Homo sapiens: one gene and its partners. The protein of the gene in region 1 purifies or fractionates together with the protein of each later gene. This does not show direct contact. Each region holds a gene or a part of one and is shown in the gene's direction. Other genes may lie near its edges. The genes, in order: CELA3B, BCAT2, TIMP3, SERPINB1 and UBR7.

The links.
Region 2: the proteins of CELA3B (region 1) and BCAT2 purify together in Homo sapiens (affinity purification with mass spectrometry; one large-scale study listed by BioGRID and IntAct). This does not show direct contact.
Region 3: the proteins of CELA3B (region 1) and TIMP3 purify together in Homo sapiens (affinity purification with mass spectrometry; one large-scale study listed by BioGRID and IntAct). This does not show direct contact.
Region 4: the proteins of CELA3B (region 1) and SERPINB1 purify together in Homo sapiens (affinity purification with mass spectrometry; one large-scale study listed by BioGRID and IntAct). This does not show direct contact.
Region 5: the proteins of CELA3B (region 1) and UBR7 purify together in Homo sapiens (affinity purification with mass spectrometry; one large-scale study listed by BioGRID and IntAct). This does not show direct contact.

The regions. Positions count from the first base shown.
Region 1 is NC_000001.11:21,986,194-21,990,212, forward strand, and holds the end of CELA3B (chymotrypsin-like elastase family member 3B preproprotein), read left to right. Parts: intron 1-337; coding exon 338-490; intron 491-3,068; coding exon 3,069-3,086; 3' UTR 3,087-3,161; downstream 3,162-4,019. UniProt on the Homo sapiens protein: Efficient protease with alanine specificity but only little elastolytic activity.
Region 2 is NC_000019.10:48,807,914-48,813,265, reverse strand, and holds the start of BCAT2 (branched-chain-amino-acid aminotransferase, mitochondrial isoform a precursor), read left to right. Parts: upstream 1-2,236; 5' UTR 2,237-2,258; coding exon 2,259-2,282; intron 2,283-2,428; exon of another isoform or gene 2,429-2,922; intron 2,923-5,029; exon of another isoform or gene 5,030-5,352. Other genes in the region: HSD17B14 (L-fucose dehydrogenase), read left to right, coding at 1-91. UniProt on the Homo sapiens protein: Catalyzes the first reaction in the catabolism of the essential branched chain amino acids leucine, isoleucine, and valine. May also function as a transporter of branched chain alpha-keto acids.
Region 3 is NC_000022.11:32,807,680-32,812,365, forward strand, and holds part of TIMP3 (metalloproteinase inhibitor 3 precursor), read left to right. Parts: intron 1-3,636; exon of another isoform or gene 3,637-4,686.
Region 4 is NC_000006.12:2,834,747-2,839,432, reverse strand, and holds part of SERPINB1 (leukocyte elastase inhibitor), read left to right. Parts: exon of another isoform or gene 1-98; intron 99-746; coding exon 747-884; intron 885-1,433; coding exon 1,434-1,551; intron 1,552-3,182; coding exon 3,183-3,325; intron 3,326-3,409; coding exon 3,410-3,577; intron 3,578-4,686.
Region 5 is NC_000014.9:93,210,256-93,214,941, forward strand, and holds part of UBR7 (putative E3 ubiquitin-protein ligase UBR7), read left to right. Parts: intron 1-392; coding exon 393-453; intron 454-1,776; coding exon 1,777-1,872; intron 1,873-4,673; coding exon 4,674-4,686. UniProt on the Homo sapiens protein: E3 ubiquitin-protein ligase which is a component of the N-end rule pathway. Recognizes and binds to proteins bearing specific N-terminal residues that are destabilizing according to the N-end rule, leading to their ubiquitination and subsequent degradation.

The DNA.
Region 1 (4,019 bases):
TCCCATCTCTATTAAATATACAAAAATTAGCTGGGTGTGGTGGCAGGTACCTGTAATCCCAGCTACTTAGGAGGCTGAAGCAGGAGAAACACTTGAACCTGGGAGCCGGGAGACGGAGGTTGCAATGAGCCAAGCTAGCTCCACTGCACTCCAGCCTGGACAAGAGAGCGAGACTCCATCTAAAAAAATAAAAATAATAAATGATTAAAAAAAATGAGCGAGCTAAGGCTCAGAGGAGTCAGGTAATGTCGGAGTTTCTCGAAATCCCTAGAATTCAGAACCAGTTCCATAAACCTCAGACATGGCTCAGCCACCCACACCTCTCTGACGGTTCCAGGGTGACTCTGGAGGACCCCTCAACTGCCCCACAGAGGATGGTGGCTGGCAGGTCCATGGCGTGACCAGCTTTGTTTCTGCCTTTGGCTGCAACACCCGCAGGAAGCCCACGGTGTTCACTCGAGTCTCCGCCTTCATTGACTGGATTGAGGAGGTGAGGAGGGCAGGGCGGCCCGGAGGGCTTTAGGGTGGTGGCTCTTCTGAGAGGTGACAGGTGAGAAACATCGGATCCTGGGGAGGGCCTGAAAGGATCCTAGAAGCTCAGTGGGGAAGGGCCCTTGGGGACATTCCAGAAAGGCTTGGGGATGTTTTCTGATACAGTGTGACCCCAGGAACTTGATGGCTTCTGGGTGGTGCTTGGAACTACAGCTGAACTTCCTTATTTCAACAAGTATTTATAAAGTATCTCCTCTGGTCTTGTCCTCTCTTGTCAGGGAGGATAGAGAGACATGCCAGACAAGAGGCTGCCTGGTGGGGGACAGGTGATTACATGAATGAGAACGATGCAGTCTGATGAGAGCCGAGAGAGGGGAGTCCAGGCCCCAGACTTCATCTGGGGATGGGTGATCAGAGAGGACTAATAACACTCCTGATAACAGTAATAGCTAAACAAAAAAAAAAAAGAAAAAAAAAAAGAGTAATAGCTGGGCATGGAGTAGTCATGCCAGTAATCCCAGCACTTTGGGAAGCAGAGGCAGGTGGATCACAAGGTCAGGAGTTCAAGACCAGCCTGGCCAAGATGGTGAAACCCTGTCTCTACTAAAAATACAAAAATTAGCCGGGCATGGTGGTGGGTGCCTGTAATCCCAGCTGCTCGGGAGGCTGAGGCAGAGAACTGCTTGAACCTGGGAGACGGAGGTTGCAGTTAGTCGAGATCATACCACTGCACTGCAGCCTAGGTGACAGAGCGAGACTCCGTCTCAAAAAAAAAAAAAAAAAGAGTAATAGCTAGCTGGGTGCAGTGATGCCCACCTGTAGTCCCAGCTACTTGGGAGGCTGAGGCAGGAGGATCGGTTGAGCCCTGGAGTTCTGGGCCATAGTGCGCTATACCCATCTGGTTCTGCACCAAGTTTGGCATCCATGTGGTGACCTCCTGGGAGTGGGGACCACCAGGTGGCCTAAGGAGGGGTGAACTGTCCCAGGTCAGAAACAGAGCAGGTCAAAACTCACATGCTGAAAAGTAGTAGGATCACACCTGTGAATAGCCACTGTACTCCAGCCTGGGCAACACAGCAAGAGCCTCTCTCTTAAAAAAATGAAAATAAACTAAATAAAATAAAACAGTAGTGCTTGCTTTGGCAGCACATGTACTAAAATTGGAATGATATAGAGATTAGCACGGCCCCTGCGCAAGGATGACATGCAAAGTCATGAAGGCTTCCATTAAAAAAACATTTCTGGCCAAGTACAGTGGTTCATGCATGTAATCCCAGCACTCTGGGAGGCCGAGGCGTATGGATCACCTGAGGTCAGGAGTTCAAGACCAGCCTGGCCGACATGGTGAAACCCCATCTCTACTAAGAATACAAAAAATTAGCCGGGCGTATTGGTGCATGCCTGTGGTCCCAGCTACTCAGGAGGCTGAGGCAGGAGAACTGCTTGAATCTGGGAGGCGGAGGTTGCAGTGCGCCGAGATTACGCCACTGCACTCCAGCCTGGGTGACAGAGCAAGACTCCATCTCAAAAACAAAAACAAACAAACAAACAAAAAAACAGTGATGATTTATAGACCATTTAATCCCTTGGTTCCCTGACCCATGTTAAAAAAATATATATATAAGGCCAGGCACGGTGGCTCATGCCTGTAATCCCAGCAATTTGGTAGGCCGAGGCAGGCAGATCATAAGGTCAGGAGTTCGAGACCAGCCTGGCCAATATGGTGAAATCCTGTCTCTACAAAAATATAAAAAAATTGGCTGGGCGTGGTGCTGCATGGCTGTAATCTCAGCTACTTGGGAGGCTGAGGTAGAAGAATTGCTTGAACTCGGGAGGCAGAAGTTGCAGTGAGCCAAGATTGCACCACTGCCCTCCAGCCTGGGCGACAGAGCAAGACTCCATCTTAAAAAAAAAAAAAAAAAAAAGCCGGGCATGGTGGCTCATGCCTGTAATCCCACCACTTTGGGAGGCTGAGGTGGGCAGATCACAAGGTCAGGAGATTGAGACCATCCTGGCTAACAAGGTGAAACCCTGTCTCTACTAAAAATACAAAAATTAGCCAGGCATGGTGGCGTACGCCTGTAGTCCCAGCTACTTGGGAGGCTGAGGCAGGAGAATGGCATGAACCCAAGAGGTGGAGGTTGCGGTGAGCTGAGATTGTGCCACTGCACTCCAGCCTGGGCAACAGAGTGAGACTCTGTCTCAAAAAGAAAAAAAACTCCAAAAATATATATTTTGTTTATATACATACATACATACATACATATATATACACACACAGACGTATATATATACACACACACACATATATATGTATATATATCTATGCACACATCCCATCTAAATTCATGCTGGCCATTGTAGAGAGAACCTTAGTTAACAATTTAATCAAGAACCCCCCCATGAGGTAAGTTCTATCATTATCCCTACTACATAGAGGAGGAAACTGAGGCTCAGAGAGGTCAATTCCTCTCCCAGGGTCACACAGCAGGGCTGGAAGTTGAACCCAGTTTCATCTGACTCCAGAACCTGTGCTCCTAAATTGACTATTCTGTCTGCCCCCCCAACTTTTCCAGACCATAGCAAGCCACTAGAACCAAGGCCCAGCTGGCAGTGCTGATCGATCCCACATCCTGAATAAAGAATAAAGATCTCTCAGAAAATTCCAAGTTGAATCTTTCTTTCTTTGTTGACTCACCTCTTCCCCTCTGGCCTGTTCCTAAAATCTTAGATCTCATATGCAGAGACAGGACCAGGTCCAACCCTTTCATACGAAGATGAGGGAAAAATGATGCTGGGAGAGAAGGGAGTTGCTGTGCGGTGACCTGACCATCCTGGTTTGCCTGGAACTTCAGGAGTGAAGACACTGGACATTTAATGCTAAAACTGGGAAGGTACCAGGAAAAATGGGACAAGTTGGTCGCCTTAGTATATAGTCGCACATAAGTCAGTAGCTTTTCAATGCAGGCATATAAACATGGTAAAAATCTGCAGATAAACAGACCCTGCCAGCCCCTCAGCAGGCTCATGGTAGAGTGGGAAGGACAATGTGTGATCTGCTTCCACTGATGGGCTGGGGGCTTTGGTTATTCATTCATTCAACAAACACTTATTCCTTGTTTTAAAGGAGGGCTCAGAGGGGTAAGGAGACATGGTTCCTGCCCTGAAGTGACTCATTATTTAAAGATAGCTCTCTTAGTCTGTGTTCATACTGCTATAAAGAACTGCCCGAGACTGGGTAGTTTATAAAGGAAAGAAGTGTAATTGACTCACAGTTCAGCATGGCTGGGGAGGCCTCAGGAAACTTAAAATCATGGTGGAAGATGAAGGGGAAGCAAGGGACCTTCTTTACAAGGTGGCAGGAAGGAAAATTGCCTAGCAAAGGGGGAAGAGCCCCTTATAAAACCATCAGATCTGGCGAGAACTCACTCACTATCATGAGAACAGCATGGGGGAACCGCCCTATGATTCAATTACCTTCTCCCTTGACACATGGCGATTATGGGGATTACAATTCAAGGTGAGAT
Region 2 (5,352 bases), on another chromosome or scaffold:
TGAACTGCTCGTGACGGGGGGTGCAGAGCTGGGGTACGGGTGCAAGGCCAGTCGGAGCACCCCCGTGGACGCCCCCGATATCCCTTCCTGATTTCTCTCATTTCTACTTGGGGCCCCCTTCCTAGGACTCTCCCACCCCAAACTCCAACCTGTATCAGATGCAGCCCCCAAGCCCTTAGACTCTAAGCCCAGTTAGCAAGGTGCCGGGTCACCCTGCAGGTTCCCATAAAAACGATTTGCAGCCAGAAGGAGGAGGATATCGTTATATTTATTTCCCATCCTTTAGACGAGTCCTTCTGCCCCACTTAGCCCTTGCACCCCAGACCCACAAGTTGCCTCGACCCTGAAGGACTGCAGCTCCCCCCGCCCCCCAACCCCAGGCCTTGCAGCAAGCAGGTGCCTGATGTTGCTAGCCCTGTCGCTGTCGCCAGGGGCTCCTGGGAAGGGTAGAGCGGTTTGGCTTCACCAGCGCGCTAACTAAAGGCCCGCAGGGGAGAGTAAATTAAGCGCTAATTAGGAGGTAATGGAGGGGGAGACGCAGAAGGCCCTCTTACTCTTGGCCCTCAGGGAAAAGGAGTTTTCCTCTCACTGCCTGTAGAATAGGAAGGTGGCTGGCAAGAAAAGTCCAAAGGGAAGAGAAAGTAGGGGGTTGAGACATCTGGATCAGAGGGAGGAGGGGCTGAAACTCCTGGGTTTTGGTCCGCAGGGCACTGGGGGACGCAGACTCCCCAGCTGGACCCAGGGGGGGGGCAGGGCCCGGGTGCGCTGGCGTCCCCCAGGTGAGGGGTGGAGCTGCAGGGCTGCTGCGGATTGGCTGTGGCCGGGGGGGCGTGTGCACCAACCGCTGATTGGCCGCGGCGGGGGCGGGAGCTGTCAGTGGGCCCCGACCCTACAGCCCGGGGCTGGCGGGTGGGGCAGGAGGACTGGGGCGGAGCGCAGAAAAACAGGGCGACGCCCTGTGAGGGAAGGGTCCCGCGGTTTGGCTGTTTGGGCCTGTGGCTGTTAGGGGTGGCAGGATAGTGACCCGGGGACAGGACTTGGGGGCACTGTGGGGGTAGAATTTGGAGACAGAGTGTCCCAGGGTAGGATTGCCGAGACACGATGGCCGAGGGATACGATTTTTTTTTTTTTTTTTTAATTTGAGACGGAGTCTCACTCTGTCGCCCAGGCTGGAGTGCTGTGGTGCAATGTCGGCTCACTGCAACCTCCGCCTCCCGGGTTCAAGCGATTCTCCTGCCTCAGCCTCCCGAATAGCTGGGATTACAGGCCCCCGGCACCACGCTCGACTAATTTTTGTATTTTTATGTATTTATTTTTATTTATTTATTTATTTTGAGACGGAGTCTCACCCTGTCACCCAGGCTGGAAATGCAGTGGCGCGATCTCGGCTCACCGCAACGTCCGCCTCCAGGGTTCAAATGATTCTCCTGCCTCAGCCTCCCTAGTAGCTGGGATTACAGGCGCACACCACCACACCCGGCTAATTTTTGTATCTTTAGTAGAGACGGGGTTTCACCATGTTGGTCAGGCGGGTCTTGAACTCCTGACCTTGTGATCCGCCCACCTCGGCCTCCCAAAGTGCTGGGATTACAGGCGTAAGCCACCGTGCCTGGCCTTAATTTTTGTATTTTTAGTAGAGACGGGGTTTCCCCATGTCGGCCAGGCTGGTCTTGAACTCCTGGCCTCAGGTGATCCACCCGCCTTGGCCCCCAAAGTGCTGGGATTACAGGTGTGAGCCACCAAGCCAGGACTTTTTTTTTTTTTTTTTTTTGAGACGGAGTCTCACTCTGTCGCCCAGGCTGGAGTGCAGTGGCATCATCTCGGCTCACTGCAACCTCTGCCTCCCCGATTCAAGCAATTCTCCTGCCTCAGCTTTCCGAGTAGCTAAGATTACAGGCGCCCGCCACCACGCCCGGCTAATTTTTTGTATTTTTAGTAGAGACGGGGTTTCATCATGTTGGACCAGGCTGGTCTCTAACTCCTGACCTCAGGTAATCCGCCCGCTTCGGCCTCCCAAAGTGCTAAGATTACAGACCTGAGCCACTTCGCCTGGCAGGGACCGTATTTCAAGTCCTGCCCTCCCACCAGCGCCTGCGCCCCGCAGCAGTGTCCGGCTCCCTGCCGACGCCCTGGAGCTGGGACGGCCTGGGGCGCTGGTCGGCCGCCTTCCCCCAGAAGGAGGCGTGAGCGGGGCGTGGCCGGAACGTCTCTCTTCGGAGCCGCGCCCCGGGCGGGCACAGTTACGCGCCGCACGGATCATGGCCGCAGCCGCTCTGGGGCAGGTGGGTTCGCAGCCCCGCGCCGGGGTCTGGGAAATAACCGGGGGAGGCGCACTTCCGGGAAGACCACTGGCCTGCAGCCGGTCCGACTCGGCGCCGCTCCTCCCGCCCTGGGGTTCCGCTGCAGGGCGCGGAGGAGGATGGCGCCCTTTGGAAAGGAGCACGAGGCTTTAATGGGGTGAGGGGGAGCAGGTAGACGCGGATGAGGTGGGGCAAGTAATTGGCGGGGAGGTAAAAAAAAAAAAAAAAAGGGAAACATGGTGGAGGACCCTGTAATGAGGGAGGCGTGGGGGTGGGGAGGTTGTGATTTGGGGAGCGGAGCCCTGGGGTGCGGTGGGGCATCAGCCTGTGCGGGAGCTGGAATAAAGGGGCCCAGACCTCCAGGGCCGGGTGCAGGTGAAGGCAGAGTTGGACCTCAAGTCTCAGCTCTGGGAATTGGACTCAAGGTCCTATTTTCTTGGAATGAAAGTTGAAAAAAATAAGAGATGGGGATTGCTGTGCTTCCCAAACTCCTATCTGAAGCTTTGCACCTGGATTGGAAATCGAGGCAGCGTCTCATGGTCAAAGTGACAGATGCTGCAGGCTGGCTGAGACGATCCCTTCTGACTGTGCGATGTCAAACAGCAGCAGCGTTTCCCAGAGTCTATGATTTCAGAGAACAAGGTTTCTCAGTGAGGAAGGAAACAGCCAAAGAAAGGGGTCATTACAAGCCTTCACAGCTGCGGTGTAACCTTGGGAGAACTGTCTGTTAACTTTACACCTGACTTTATTTGAGTCTCTTATCCTAGCTGATGAATGTCAGGGCAGAATTTCACTTTTTTCGGCTCTTAGTGACTGATAGGGATAGTCCTGGGATACCTGGGGTATGTGGGCAATCTGGGCTTTAGTGGTGACACTCCTGGACTGTGGTGGGGCAGTACTGGGCTTTGACAGGTCCACTTGGGACTGATGTGGACCGTCTCATCATGGCACAGTTCTGGTGTCATAGAATGGCCCTGAACTCATGATGGGACATTCCTAGGCTCTGATGAAGATAGAGATATCCTGTAATGGAGATAATTGGGCTGAGTCCTCAGCTGTGATGGGGACAGTCCCGGGGTGTGGAGAGGACAGTGCTGGACCATGGTAGGGACAGTCTGGAAGGTACTGGCCTAGACAGCAACATAGGGATAGTCCTGGGGATTGAAAAAGACAACAATGGGATTTTTTTTTTTTTTTTAATTTCAGACCTGGTGAATAGGAAATAAGCCCTGATATTTGGCAGAGACAATGCTGGTTATAATGGGGAAAAGTGCTGGGCTTTGGATAGGGGACATTCCTGAGCTGTTTGGGACAGTACTTGGCTCTGCTGGGGACCAGTTCTGATAAGTTACAGGCACAATCTGGACTTGTGATGTGGAGCATCTTGGGCCATCATAGAACAGCCCTGGTCTGTGATGGGGGAGAGTCCTGGGCTATAAAGGGGGCAGTTCTAGACGTGATGGGGTCATGTGTGGGCTGTGACAAGGGCAGACTGCGGTATGATGGGGTCTCTCCGGGGCCGTGATATGGGGACAGTCCTGGAGTATGGAGGGCACTGCTGGGCTTTGACAGTGACACTCCTGGTCTTTGATGGTGATACTCCTGGGCTGTATGGGACATAATGGAGGTTCTATCACATTATAGAGACCTGCCCTGTGAACCCCCAAACGTACTTTATTTCTTTGTCTCGTCTTTTCTTTTTGACCGAGTCTTGCTCTGTTGCTCAGGCTGGAGTGCCGTGGCACGATCTCGGCTCACTGTAACCTCCGCCTCATGGGTTCAAGTGACTGTGGTGCCTCAGCCTCCCGAGTAGATGGGCTCAAGCGATCCACCTGCCTCAGATTACAGGCATGAGCCACCATGCTGGTCTTTTTTTTTTTTTTTTTTTTTTTTTTTTTTGAGAGACACTCTATCACTCATGCTGGAGTGTAGCAGTGTGATCGTAGCTCACCACAGCCTTGACCAGTAGGTCAAGGTGATCCTCCCACCTTAGCCTTCTGAGTAACTGGAATTACAGGTGTGTGCCACCATACCTGGCTAATTTTTAAATTGTTTGTAGAGACAGGGTCTTGCTATATTGCCCAGGCTGATCTTGAACTCCTGGCCTCATGCAGTCCTCCCACCTCTGTCTCCTAAAGTGCTGTGATTACAGGCATGAGCTACTGAGCCAGCTGCCTACTTTCTTTCTTTGTTTTTTTTCTTTTTAATTGAGACAGAGAGTCTTGCTCTGTCGCCCAGGCTGGAGTGCAGTGGCACCATCTCGGCTCACTGCAACCTCCGCCTCCTGGGTTTAAGCAATTCTCCTGCCTCAGCTTCCCAAGTTGCTGGGACTACAGGCGCCCGCCACCACACCCAGCTAACTTGTATTTTCTGTAGAGACAGGGTCTCCCTATGTTGCCCAGGCTGGTCTTGAACACCTGGCCTCAAGCTATCCTCCTGCCTCGGCCTCCCACAGTGCTGGGATTACAGGCGCGAGCCACTGCGTGTGGCCTCTTTCTATGATTAGATCTATTTTGGCATCTCTTGTTTCTTGGCGTCAATTTCTGTTTTTGTTTTTTTTTTTTTCTGTTTGTGCGCCCCTTTCTGTGTTTCTTTTTCTCATCCTTCCTCTTCCATCTCTTACTCTCTTTTTTTCATCTTGGCTCTGAGGGCAGCTCTCCTGCCCACAGGCTGGCTGTCGCACTGTGTTTGTGTCTCTCATACTGTGGGTGTCCTATCCCTCTGGGCAGAAGCATGGCTGCAAGGCTGAGCAGTCTAGATGTCGCCACCCAAAGGCAATCTGGGGACCCACGCTCTGATCACCCCGGAATCCCTGGAGCCTCACACCAGCAAGACCACGCTGCAGGCCCATCTCCCAGCAACTCACCTAGCGACAAGTGACCACGCCCATTCACGTCCATCTTCCAGAATCAGTGCCAACTCACCCAGCTCACAGGGCAGGCCAGGCCAGGCCACTCTGTCTCTCTCAACCTCACGCCCCAACGCCTCCCCACAGGGCTGGGGAAAGAGGCCTTGTGAGGTCAAAGGTCACCAGAGAGGGCCCAGCCTGCTG
Region 3 (4,686 bases), on another chromosome or scaffold:
AAGCCCCTTCACCCTGGCTCTAAAATATATTTAACAACTATACTATAGGTCACATTATACCATATCATATTATATATACTACTACATACTCTTATATTATTATAATTATATAATATGCATTTTCAATTTTAATAGTTCCTGCCAATTTGGCCTCCACAGTGGCTGTGTTAACACAGTTCTTTTCATATATGCAACATGAGGGGATGGAGGAATGTTAGAGCCCTGTGCTTAAGAGACTCCCATGCTTCTCTCAAATAGAAAAACAATTTATAATTTTTATTGACTTACTGAGTGTTTTTTTTCCTTCTTTTTGTCTCTTTGAAAGGGAGCAAAATTAGGGCCACGAAGATCAAGTTAATGGGAGTATTTTCATAGGGAGAGGAAGGCTGCAATGCCAGGAAAGCTGTGACCCTTGACTTGTTGCATGCTGGAGTAATTCGGTTGAAGATAGCTTTATGTATTTATTTTGCTTTCAGAATAAGCAGTGGACCATTTATTACACCAAGTTGTTTGACTTTGAGGACTTACATGGACTCAGGTTCAAAGGTATATGTGGCTGTGTTTTGAACACACATACACAGGGTTTTGCTTTCTGACTCAAAGCTGTCCGCTGGCCAGGCTCATGGTGGCAGCAAGGGCACTCACTCATCTGTCTCCCTTCTTGTTGCCTATGGATGGCACTTGGGTGAGAGCAGTGGGATGGTCACAAGGAGGAGGATGGACTGCCGAGAGGGAGGCTGGGTGGACCCCAGCCAAGAAGGACGCTGGGGTCTCATTATTATGGGAGCTAGAAGGCCTGGTTTAGGAAAGAATTCCTGTTCTGATGAAAGCTCTTCAGTGGACTCTTAGGATAAAGTATCATCAAATGGCTTTTACAAGGGCCAGTGTGGACCCTGCCTACCTCATCCTCATAGTCTCATCACTGGTCTGTCCTGCTCCAGCTGTTCATACTCTGTCTCTCTGGCTCTTGGCCCATGACACCCCCTCGGTTTTGAACAGTCCTCATTAACTTCTCATTCTCTAGGTCTCCTTTGGTTCCTTTCCCTGATCACTCCTTGGCATTGGTACAGACGAACAGTCATAAACCTTGCCCATATTTTAAGCATGCTGAAAAACACCATCTCTAGTAAAACCCAAATTCTCCAAAGCTGCATGGGAAACTCCCAGAGGGGATCATTCCTGCGCTGGGAGAAAGAACTTAGGGCTGCGTGCCACCCAGAGGGATAAACCTAACCCACTTTAGAGGGTAAGCACCCACTATGCTCTCTGCATTACTTGATAAGTCTAGTCCTGTCTTCTGGTGGACATGATACCCTAGCACCCTCCCAGAGAAGAAAGTGGAGATTTCTAAATGCCAACCCTGCAGGAGATCACAAACATAATACTGTAATTTTCATAGTAAGTTTGGTGCCCTTACTATGTGCCAGGCACTGTACCAAGCTCCTTACTTGCCTATCAGTCATCCCAGCTGCCTGATGAGCTGTCTCAGGCTAGGGAAGCCAAATGGCTTGCCCAAGCTCACACCACTTGCAACCTATACTTGCTTAGCCTATCTCCAAAACCTGTGTTTCCAATCAGTCTCTCATATAGACCAAGGGCTACAACTTTTTAGACTTGGGAAGATTCTACCCATTTTGCGACCTCTCCACATGAGTCTTTGGCTCCCCACTGTTGGGGTCCCCGTCAGTCTGCTTATCTTTGGTTTTCTTCCTCTCCAGACATGCCTTCCCTGCTGCCCCCAAATTTTATTACTGTATAGTCAGTTCTGGGATCCTAACATAACCAAGCCTTACCTCCTAACCCAGTGCCCTTTCAACTCTCTCAGTGGTTCCCAGACTTTTCAACACTATGGAATTTTTTAAAATTAATTTTTCCCTCCAATAAGTTCTGTGTTTGGAACAGTTATCCGACACAATTTCATGTGTTGAGTGTTGATTAACTTTCCATTAAAAAACAAATTAAAATATAACTAGAACTGCTGATACTAGCCAGTCATTATTCTGACACAATCAGCTAATATACTAATTAATTATAGCCGAAAGCAAGGACGGTTGGTGTTTTCATAAGCCTGGGAAGTTTTCTCATGGGTTCCTGGGTGATTGCATTGTCGGATTTGGGTTGGCTTACTGATATGCCTAAAATAGCTCCTGGCTTCTTTGGTATATCGCTGTCCTTTGCCCCTCCTGAGAATCTTTAGTTTCATGCCAGCTTAGCATCTCTTCTCCCTGTGGGCAGGTCCCATGCATTTACTGCCATTGTCACTTCTCCCTGTTACCCACAGTGCTGCCACCATGCCTGGGATAGACAGCAGGTAACTGATGTGTCCTAGTTGAGGTCCCTATCCTTTCAGAGGAGGTGACATGGGTTCAGATATTTTCCTATGTTCATGTCTGGCATCCAGGGGTACACAAAGTATTGATTCTAGCTAAAGGGACTTACTAAATACTGTTTGACAGGAGGCCCACAGGTGTCTATGTGGGCTGCAGTGGAACTAAGAGGTCTTTTTGTTCAGCTGTTAAAAAATTAGTGTTTGTAGCTTCAGAGGGGCCCCAGAGAACCTTTCCTGACCCATTTAGAGGCCATCTGTGTGGCTAGGATGGCTTTGCTGTCACAGAAGGGACAGTCCACACTACCCAACACTCAAGTCTGATTTATGTTCATGTAAATCCGATCACCTAATGGTGGCATTCACGGCTTGGAGACAAGAAACTATAAGTGTTTCCAAGCCTGCAGCCACCTGGCTTTTTGTGGGGGTGGGGAAGGGAAGGAAAGCTGTACGATCTGGCCTCAGAGAGCCCAAGGTAAAGTTCAGTTAGTGGAAAAACAGAGCCCTAGATGATTGGGCGGGGGGTGGGTACTGGGGAGTGGAGAGGGGAAGTCCTGAGCTGACCAAGCCTCCAAGAGCCATTCCGGAACTAGAGATCTTAAATACTACATGGTAATTATCCCCTCTGCCTCTGCCCATGAGGGTGTCAGGCACAGGGCCGCCTGGCTGCCTGCAGAGAAGAGCTGTTTCATTCAGAAACTTCAGAGCTCCTGCAATGCCTGGATTAGGATGTGGGGATGGTGAGTTTCGCAACCAGGGTCAGATTTCATGAAGACTTGGTTTCGTGACTTGAGGTGTTTGACTAAGGTGTTTGCATCTCATGTATTTAGGAAGGGCTCCCTTTTGACTTAGACTTTATCATCATGAATAAGCTCCCTGCCTTTTCGATTTGGAAACATGATAGCTCTAGTGAGCTCTGCTACTCCCAAGCTTGGGCAGGTTCTTTGCCTCAGTTTCCTCATCTCTAAAATGGGGGGAAATATATTATGTACCACGTGGTAACTTCATTGGCAATTAAGTGAAATACTTCATGGAATGTTTAGCACTAAATATTCCTTAGTGTTGAAAAGGCTGGGAACCACTGAGACAGTTGAAAGGGCACTGGGTTAGGAGGTAAGGCTTGGTTATGTTAGGATCCCAGAACTGACTATACGGTAATAAAATTTGGGGGCAGCAGGGAAGGCATGTCTGGAGAGGAAGAAAATCAAAGATAAGCAGACTGAGGGGGGCCCCAAAAGTGGGGAGCCAAAGACTCAGGTGGAGAGGTCGCAAAATGGGTAGAATCTTCCCAAGTCTAAAAAGTTGTAGCCCTTAGTCTATACAAGAGACTGATTCTTGGCACAGAATAGCTCAATAAGAATAAGCATGAGCTTTTAGTAGTAGTGTTGTTATAGAGCAGAGCTGATATTCTCACTTCACTTTCGGTGAGGAAAATGGCGCTCTGTGGTGTGATGTGATGTTTTCCAGGGTCATATAGAGAGAGCTGAGTTTCAATTCAAAATCGTGGTTTGATCCCCCCGCCTCCAAATCTAATGTGTTCCATTTTGTCACAGTGCTTCCCACAGGGCAGAGAAAGAAACAACAAAGTTCCTACTCTATTTTCACAACTCTTCACATTTTAGAGTCTTAAGTCCATTTGATCTCATTTGATGACAACTTCGCAACGAGGAAAGCAGGATGGTGATTGGGGGGTCGGTCATAGTTCCTAGTTAGTGGATGTCAGTATTGAGAATGGCGGGGTTCTGTGGCTTAGCCATATAGCCAATACATGGAATGGGATTGGAACCCATGTCTTCTGAGGGCAAGCCCAACACTTGTCAAGGATCTGGTGCTGCCCTTCCCTCTTTAGACAGCTCCCATTGATAAGCAGAGGTAGAAGTCACTAGGGTAGCCAAAGAGAGGGCCCTAGAAATGGAATGGTGACAATGAACTTGGCTGAAGAGTCAGCAACCGCTCCCCTATCCACTGCCAGGGCTAGGAGGTGCAGTGTGGCATGGAGGAGGAGCACTGGCTGGAGTTAGGAGGCCTAAGGTCTAGTCCTAGTTCATCATCTGACTCTGGAGTCCCCTTGGTGATACTGACCTCCCTGGGTTTGGTCTCTTATCTGTAAAACAGCAGGATATTGGCTCTATGTGGTGTGTATTTCACTGAATGCCTACTATGGTCAAGTTTTTCTGGCTCTAAGTTCCCTTGGAAAGGGCTCTCTACTTTAGCTGAATAACTCAGCACCTAAATCTGTCAACCACACCCTTCAGTAGGTAACTTTGTTAGAAATATGGTCTATTAAGGTAAGAGCCAGGATTTCTGTGGTTGCAAAAGTGGATGCGGGCTCTGAACAAAACCTCTAGTGAGCTGAGATA
Region 4 (4,686 bases), on another chromosome or scaffold:
GACTTTAAAACCTCAGCAAAGAATAGTTTTAAGGACTCCTCCCCCATTTCCATTAAAGCAGATGGAGCATAGGCACAGTGCAAACATTCCATATCTCGGTGAGTAATGTGGACTTCGTACCCTATGCAATTTTGTTCTTTGTGTCTTAATCATAAAGGAACCAGCCTAGGTCTCATAAAACCACAAAGGGCCTCTTGATTTGTAACTGATACATGGGGAATTAAACTTTTGCCAGAATGTTAAGTTTAAGGAAGTTATTTTAAAATAAGTGAGTTACTGATGTTAATAGGGTAATAAAATTTTAAAAGCTTCAGTCTGTACTATCTTTGTGGTTCTGAATAGAGGATGAATCCTATTTTTACTGCTTATTTCTGAGAACTTTCAGTAAAATTATATTTGATACAGAATATAAATATGAACATACCATTTATTATTTTCTTTGGAAAAGGCAGACTTATATATAAATATTTAGTATCTTAACCACCCACATTTGTGGAACTGCAAGTGTAACAAAGAGTGATGTAAAAGCAATGTGTAAAGTTGTAAACATTCTGTCTCACGAAGCCATAAATTTTGGATTTCCTATTGTTTGTTCTGCAATGACAAATTAATAAAGTATTGGGTTTGGGATCATCAATAATTAGTAATAAAAACACATTAATTTAATGTGATAGAAGGAAACACCAAGGAATCACTTTATAGTTTCAAAATAAATGGTTGTAGAAAGAAGATTTTCTTTATTTTAGACTTTCCATTTCAACACGGTTGAAGAGGTTCATTCAAGATTCCAGAGTCTGAATGCTGATATCAACAAACGTGGAGCGTCTTATATTCTGAAACTTGCTAATAGATTATATGGAGAGAAAACTTACAATTTCCTTCCTGTAAGTACTTTGCCCTTCACATTCTAAAACCCCACTAGACAGTGCAGATATTTTCCAGCACAATCAAGTCATGGAGGTCAGTTTTAATATTTGTAAACTTTCAGAAAAACAATACAGAAGGCAAACATGGCAAAAACAATATGGAAGGCAAACACGACAGAATGCAAACTTTAATTGACATGGTGATTTTGTGTTACAGTCTTTTTAGTGAAAAGATAGCTCTTGGAGGTTTTACTGAAGCAAGAGTACAATCAGTGTTTGTGAAATCTTAGTCAAAGTTCAGAAAAGAGTGGTAATTTCTATATAACAACAACAGTATAAGGGTTAGGCTTACCACTACTGGAATGCACAGTTAAAAGTGGCTAAGATCGTAAATTTAATGTTAAATGATTTTTACTACTATAAGAAAAACTATAAGAGTTAGAAATTTTGTGTTACATGGAATTGTAGCCTTTTAGGACAATTTCTGTTGCTTTTTGGGATTTTAGAAAACAATTTCTATATGTAGTAGGAGTTATATATATATTTCCTTTTCCTTTTTTTTAATAGGAGTTCTTGGTTTCGACTCAGAAAACATATGGTGCTGACCTGGCCAGTGTGGATTTTCAGCATGCCTCTGAAGATGCAAGGAAGACCATAAACCAGTGGGTCAAAGGACAGACAGAAGGTGAGAGCCTGGGCAGAATGGAATCATTATGCGCTGGTCATGTCATTCGTTTCCTCAGTCCGCCTTCCCTACCTGCAGTTATTCCCTCCCCAGCTCCCACAGTCCTGGCGCACATCGTGGTTACAGTCAGAGGACGCTGCCGGTGCGTGAAGTCTGCACTGCACGTTGCTGGACAGCTCTCACATGTTCGAAGTTCACCAGAGTGGAAACTTAAACATGATTTAACTCAAGCAGCTAAATCCTTTTTTCTCATCAGCTCCCCAAAACTTTTAAAGTTGCATTTCAAAGTTAAAACCAACATTGGCAGGCGCGGTGGCTCATGCCTGTAATCCCAGCACTTTGGGAGCCCAAGGCGGGCGGATCATTTGAGGTCAGGAGTTCAAGACCAGCTTGGCCAACATGATGAAACCCTGTCTCTACTAAAAATACAAAAAATTTAGCCAGGTGTGGTAGCACACACCTGTAATCCCAGCTACTCTGGAGGCTGAGGCAGGAGAATCTCTCGAACACAGGAGGTAAAGGTTACAGTGAGCCGAGATCATGCCACTGTACTCCAGCCTAGGCAACAGAGCGAGACTCCGTCGTAAAAAAAATAATAAAAATAATAAAAAATAAAAAATAAAGTTAAAACCAACACTGAATACAGCAAAAAAGGAATTAAAATTTTGAGGAGAATTCAGCCTGCCAAAAATTACCTAATACTCATATGGAAAGAAATGTCCTGGAATTTCATGGAAATACCTGAAATCAATATTCACAAACTACTGTGGTTGTAAATTTTTTGCCAACATCTTGTCCAGTAAAAAAGTTGTGGTAGGTGGGGACTGACTTGCTTTTAGGGTGCAATTTATTTCTTTGCTACATCTCTCTTCTTACATAGCCCTGTATTAGTCAACCCACTCCAGAAGACCTGTCTTCCATTATGGGAATTGTTCCCAGCCATACTTATGGTCACGAAGGTGACCTTTATTTCCATGGAGTATGTTCTGCTGGTTTTTTTGTTTGTTTGTTTGTTTTTTGTTTTTAAGAGACAGAGTCTTGCTCTGTCGCCCAGGCTTGAGTGCAGTGGTGCGATCGTGGCTCACTGCAGCCTTGACCTCCTGGGCTCAAGGAATCTTCTCATCTCCACCTCCCAAAGCACTGGGACTGCAGGTGTGCGCCACCATGCTTGGTCTTGTTCTGCCTTTTGGATATTGTTTAAACCTTTTTTTGTGAGAGTAGGCATCTACTCAGCGATTTGAAGAAGTGATTTACTGATGACTAAAGATATCTTCATTAAGAATTTTTTTTTTCTAAAAAAGAATGGTTGTTACAAAATAAGGCTCATTGTTTATCATACAGTCCAGAAAAGGAGAATTTTCCTGTCTTTTGTCTTTCGGCACATTTGACTTGTTTAAAATGTCAGGTCCTTGTGGGAAGTTTGTGTGTCATCCTGGTCTGTCTGCCCCACAGGTTGTTATACTTAAAGTAGAGACATGTTAGTGAGTAGGGCTTTCCTAAGTTAATATCTTGTTAAATGAAAATTAAGTAGAAATTATATATTTGAATTGCATTTCCGTGCTAATATATTGTCAGTTCAAATTTGGAATTCCGATTTGGATTTTTTTTACGCTAACTTGATTTTTTTTTAGGAAAAATTCCGGAACTGTTGGCTTCGGGCATGGTTGATAACATGACCAAACTTGTGCTAGTAAATGCCATCTATTTCAAGGGAAACTGGAAGGATAAATTCATGAAAGAAGCCACGACGAATGCACCATTCAGATTGAATAAGGTGAGGTGAGGTAACTGTACAGAGTCATGCATTGCTCTAAAAGAATGCAGAGAATAATTTCAGTGATTTTTTAAAACTGTTCAGAAAGACAGAAAAACTGTGAAAATGATGTATCAGAAGAAAAAATTTGCATATGGCTACATCGAGGACCTTAAGTGCCGTGTGCTGGAACTGCCTTACCAAGGCGAGGAGCTCAGCATGGTCATCCTGCTGCCGGATGACATTGAGGACGAGTCCACGGGCCTGAAGAAGGTATGGCTCCTGGGCTTCATGCTTTGTGGTTCCTCTTGCATGTGTGTGTCGCATGGTAGGTAGGTGCTTGTTAAGTGTTCACTGATGGTGCATTTTCCAGTAGTTTGTCATTCCTTTGTAAATGTAGCCCATCAACACTTACTACACTAAAGCCCAGAGTTAATTTTTTTTTAAATTTACTTATAGAGACAAGGTCTCACTATGTTGTTTAGGCTGGTCTTGACCTCCTGGCTTCCAGCAATCCTCCTGCCTCAGCCTTCTGAGTAGCTGGGACTATAGCTGTGAGCCACTGTGCCCGGCTAACGTTTCATTTTTCAAGAAAGATGGCCAGCTACTTTCAGTGGACACTTGTGATGGGGTCATTAAAGATCTATACTAAATATAATACTGGTTAGTGGCAGCTCATGGAAAGGCTCTTGAATTAGCTTTAGAGGAAATTACAGTAAGATGAGGATTGTTTTACTGAGGAAAAAGATTGAAAAGCCCCAAATAGTGTAGCATATATCTTCATCACGTACTATAAAATTCTATTATTACACTGTTTGTTCTCATCACAATTCATATAGATAGTGAATTAAATTTTCAATGGGTACAAGACAGAAAAAGCCTCATGTGACATGTTAGGCCTATTTACTAGTATGATCTTTGCATGAGGTTTCCATTATATGTAGGGACTCTAGCCTGCTCTGTGCTCTCCGTCTCCTCCCTATCCACCTATTCATCATCCTTGCTATCAGGAAGGGGGTCTAATGTTAATCATTTGCATGTACAGACTTTTAATACATTGTATAACAATCAATGTGGCCTTTCTTTTGGTTGTATTTTTGCATTAGTTTTTTTTCTGATTGTAAAGTGAAAATCTCTAGCCTCTTAAAAGGAATTATCAGCACCATTAGAAGAAGTAGAGTGATGGTTCTATTCCAGTCCAATAGCTATAACAATAGTAATGATAATAGCTGACATTTATGTAGCACTATGGGCCAAGCACTTTATATACATCATTTCATTTAATGCTCTCAACAATCTATAAGGTAGATATAAGTAATGTCCACATCACATTTCAGATGAGGAACTAGCTCCAGTGCATAATCTGCCTTTAAAATTTTTAC
Region 5 (4,686 bases), on another chromosome or scaffold:
TGTATTTTTAGTAGAGACGGTGTTTCACCGAGTTAGCCAGGATGGTCTCGATCTCCTGACCTCGTGATCCGCCCGCCTCAGCCTCCCAAAGTGCTGGGATTACAGGCGTGAGCCACCTCGCCCAGCACTAATGAAATTTAATGTAATTATTTTATATAATTGGAGAGAGTTGTTTCTAGAGCCTTTAAAAACATAATATGGTACAAACTCAAACCATTTATCTTTCCCTGCCATCATTTTACTTGTGTGTTTGTATGTGATATAAATATTTGCTTTTGTACATATTAATTTCCCGAATTGTGAAGTCTTACTATGTGCTTGAATGCTTGAAGAAATTTTAAATTGGATTTTGTAAAAAGAAAAATAAAATTGTTATTTCCTCCTTTTTTCAGAAATTTTCGTTGTGATTGTGGAAACAGCAAGTTTAAAAATTTGGAATGCAAATTACTTCCTGTAAGTAAGCACTGTAACTATAAATGCATTTAGAGCAGCTGAGGTTAATATTTGCCAGAGTGGGTAAAAAAACAAATACCTGTATTTTCCAAAAAAAGAAGTTCTTATGCTTATTCTTTGCAGATGGCCATTTCATTTTTTACTTTGTTAGAAAAACTATATAAACTGTTGAGAGCCTACAAGATAGATGGTAATTAATATGAAAGGTTTGGGGGAGAGATGTACTTGAAAGTAATTCAGGTTTAATTATATTGGTTGTACTTATTCTCTGAGGCTTTTAAATCAGCGGATATGACTTAAAAACAATAAATAGGGTCAAGAGATCGAGACCATCCTGGCCAACATGGTGAAACCCTGTCTCTACTAAAAATACAAAAATTAGCTGGGCATGGTGGCACCCAGTCATCTACTCGGTCAGCTACTTGGGAGGCTGAGGCAGGAGAATTGCTTGAACCCAGGAGGCGGAGGTTGCAGTGAGCCGAGATTGCGCCACTGCACTCCAGCTGGCAACAGAGCAAGACTCCATCTCAAAACAAACAAACAAAAACAATAAATAGGCCGGGCACGGTGGCTCACACCTGTAATCCTAGCACTTTGGGAGGCCGAGGCAGGTGGATCACTTGAGGTCAGGAGTTCAAAACCAGCTTGGCCATCATGGTGAAACCCCCCCGTACTAAAAATACAAAAAATTATCTGGGCATGGTGGTGCGTGCCTGTAATCCCAGCTACTTGGGAGGCTGAGGCAGGAGAATCGCTTGAACCCAGGAGGCGGAGGTTGCAGTTACCCGAGATTGTGCCACCGCACTCCAGCCTGGGCGACAGAGCGAGACTCCATCTCAAAAAAAAAAGAAAAAGAAAAACCAATAAATAAGGCTGGGCGTGGTGGCTCATACCTGTAATCCCAACACTTTGGGAGGCCTAGGTGGGAGAATGGCTTGAACCCAGACCAGCCTGGGCATCATAGTGAGACCCCATCTCTATCAAAAAGAAAAAAGAAGTACCTTGAAATTCCAGGCCAATATCAGTTCACATAGATTGATAATTAATATTTATGATTAACTTTTATCTCCATTTTATTGAATAGGTGTATTTAATTTCTCCTAATTACCACAAAAAAAAACAAAAAAAAATTATTTTTTCCCTGTGTCCTGAAAAAAGTATCCCTTTAGTGGTAGTGAGTTTTTTTTTTCCTACTTTGAAAATTAAAGATCAGCCTCTTGGGGGAAATAATGTGGAAATGTATTGAATGCATAAATTTTATAATGTGTGAAATTATAGTTAAAATTAGACCATATTATTATTGAAATCAATATTATATTTCAGGACAAAGCAAAGGTAAATTCTGGCAATAAGTACAATGACAACTTTTTTGGATTGTACTGCATTTGCAAGAGACCTTATCCTGATCCTGAAGACGAGGTAAGAGAATTGGAAGTTAAACCTGGGGGTGTGTCCCCTCTAGCCTTGATTCCTCAACTGCTTGTCATATCCGAGCCTCTGGCTCTTCAAGAGGCAGTGTGGGATGGTGAAAGGGCTCTAGATTTATCTTTTCTTATGAATCTGGGTTGGATCTATAATTGGTACACATCTCAACCATTCTTTTCATTTTTACATCATAAGAATGAAATATTGGAGAGGACTTTCCCAAAGCCAGAGCTTCTTCCCTTCCTCTCCTTCCCTGACTGCCTCCCCCAGTCCCCAAACACTTTCTAAGAAATGACCTTCAACTTCTTTTGTCTCTTTACGGAAAAAAATGGGGTATACAAACAGCATCCTCTTAAAAACGTCAATGAGAAGTATATGCAAAATTCAAAACGAGTTCTTCCTCACTTCTGCACCTCTTACCTCCCAGGCATAACCACTGTTAACACTTTTGGTGTGTATATTTTTAGTCCTTTTTCTGTGCACATAGAAGTGTTTGAGTGAATGTGTGTTTCAATGTGTAGTTTCCTTTCTATTAACAGAAGTGAAAATTCTGTACACTCACTTCTGCAGCTGGCTTTTCTCACCAGTATATCATAGACATTCTTTCATGTCAACAAAACACACTTACCCCCTTCTAACTGCTGCAGAGTATCCTATAATTTCATATGCCATAAGTTAGTCAACCTGATTGTTCTTCTACAGCAGAATGGCATTGTGTAATTTTTCAATATTATAAAGAAAGCTAGAGTGAACATCCTCATACAGTAATACAACTGAGTATACTCCAAGTATTTATGTAGAATGGATCGGTATAATTGACGGATCAAAGTGTATTTGTGGCATTTAAAATTGTGATTGGCTGGGCACTGTGGCTTATGCCTGTAGTCCTGGCTACGCGGGAGGCTGAGACACAAGAATCACTTGAACCCATGGGGCAGAGGTTGCAGTAAGCTGGGATTGCGGCACTGCACTCCAGCCTGGGTGACAGAGCGAGACCCTGTCTCAAAAAATAATAATCATAATAAATAATAAAATAAAATTGTGATCATATCTGCCAAAAAAGTTGTACCAGCAACAGTATATGATAGTGTTTTTTCCCCAACACTTTTGTCAACCTTGCATATTACCAGTTCTTGAAAATTTTGCCATTCTGATAAATGAAGAATAGTATCTTTTTTTTCATTTTTTTTTTCAGACGGAGTCTCGCTCTGTCACCCAGGCTGGAATGCAGTGGCGCGATCTCGGCTCACTGCAAGTTCCACCTCCCGGGTTCATGCCATTCTCCTGCCTCAGCCTCCTGAGTAGCTGGGACTACAGGTGCCCGCCACCACGCCCAGCTAATTTTTTGTAATTTTAGTAGAGTCAGGGTTTCACCGTGTTAGCCAGGATGGTCTCAATCTCCTGACCTCATGATCCGCCTGCCTCGGGCTCCCAAAGTGCTGGGATTACAGGCGTGAGCCACCGCGCCCAGCCAAAGAATAGTATCTTAAATTTTTTTTTCTTTCCCTGATGATAAGTGAGGTTATGCATCTTTTCATAAGTTCATTGGACATCCATAATAACCTTCTCTCTGAATTGTCCTTTCATATCCTCAGTCCATGTTTTGATTGGTTTGGGTTTTGTCTGGGTATTTACCGATTTGAAAGAGTACTTTTTGTCTTTAGAGATATTAGTCTTCTGCCTTCTTCCTTGCTTTCTAATTGCGTTGGAACTATAATTATTGAACCAAATTATATAGAGGGACAGATTGAAAGTCTCTTTGAGTTAACAAAAATAAAACCTTAAAACTGGATTTTTTTTTTCTTTTTTTTAAGACGGAGTTTCGCTCTGTCACCCAGGCTGGAGTACAGTAGTGCGATCTCAGCTCACTGCAACCTCTGCCTCCCAGGTCCAAGCGATTCTTCTGCCTCAGCCTCCTGAGTAGCTGGGATTACAGGCACTCGCCACCATGCCCGGCTAATTTGTGTATTTTTAGTAGAGACAGGATTTCAGCATGTTGGCCAGGCTAGTCTTAAACTTCTGACCTCAGGCGATCCACCCACCTTGGCCTTCCAAAGTGCTGGGATTATAGGCGTGAGCCACCACGCCCAGCCAAAACTGGATATTTTAAGGCATGTGGTAAAGTGTTACAGCTCCTCCTGTTCCACAATATGTGCTTTTTTATTCCCTTTAAGAAGCCTACGATAGGAAAAGGACAGAACAACATTGGGATGTTAATTAACAGTTATGAGAGCCTGGGAGTAAAAGAAAATCATCCCCAAAATAGTCTATGTCCTTTGGTATATTATTTTCCTAGGGCCAGCATTTAATTATTTAATTTATTCAAATTAGAGGAGTTATCTATCGAGGTTTTTCATAACATTTACTTTTCAGTGTACTTGGCAGGATGGTTCTTCTGCAGCAGAAAGGCATTGTCTAATTTTTCAATATTATAAAGAAGGCTGGAGTGAACATCCTTATACAGTAATACAACTGAATATTGTATTAAAGGATGGTGTGGTAAAAAGTCCCAGTTGTCACTGTCTGCACTGGTCCATTCACATTACTTGCCTGGGCCTGAGTTTTGTATAAAATGGGAATGCCCTCCTTGTCTACACAGTTTTGTGAGAATCAGATATTAAGTAATGGATGTGAAAGAGCCTTGAGATTGTTTGTAAAGTGCTTATCTCAATGTAAGCCTTTGGAACACCAGTTCATGTAGAACAAATATTTAGTATCTTATTTTACTGTGTGCCAGGTTATTTCCATGTTCCCGAATTCAATGTAATCCTTAACAAACTGCTTTTCTCTGTTAGATTCCAGATGAGA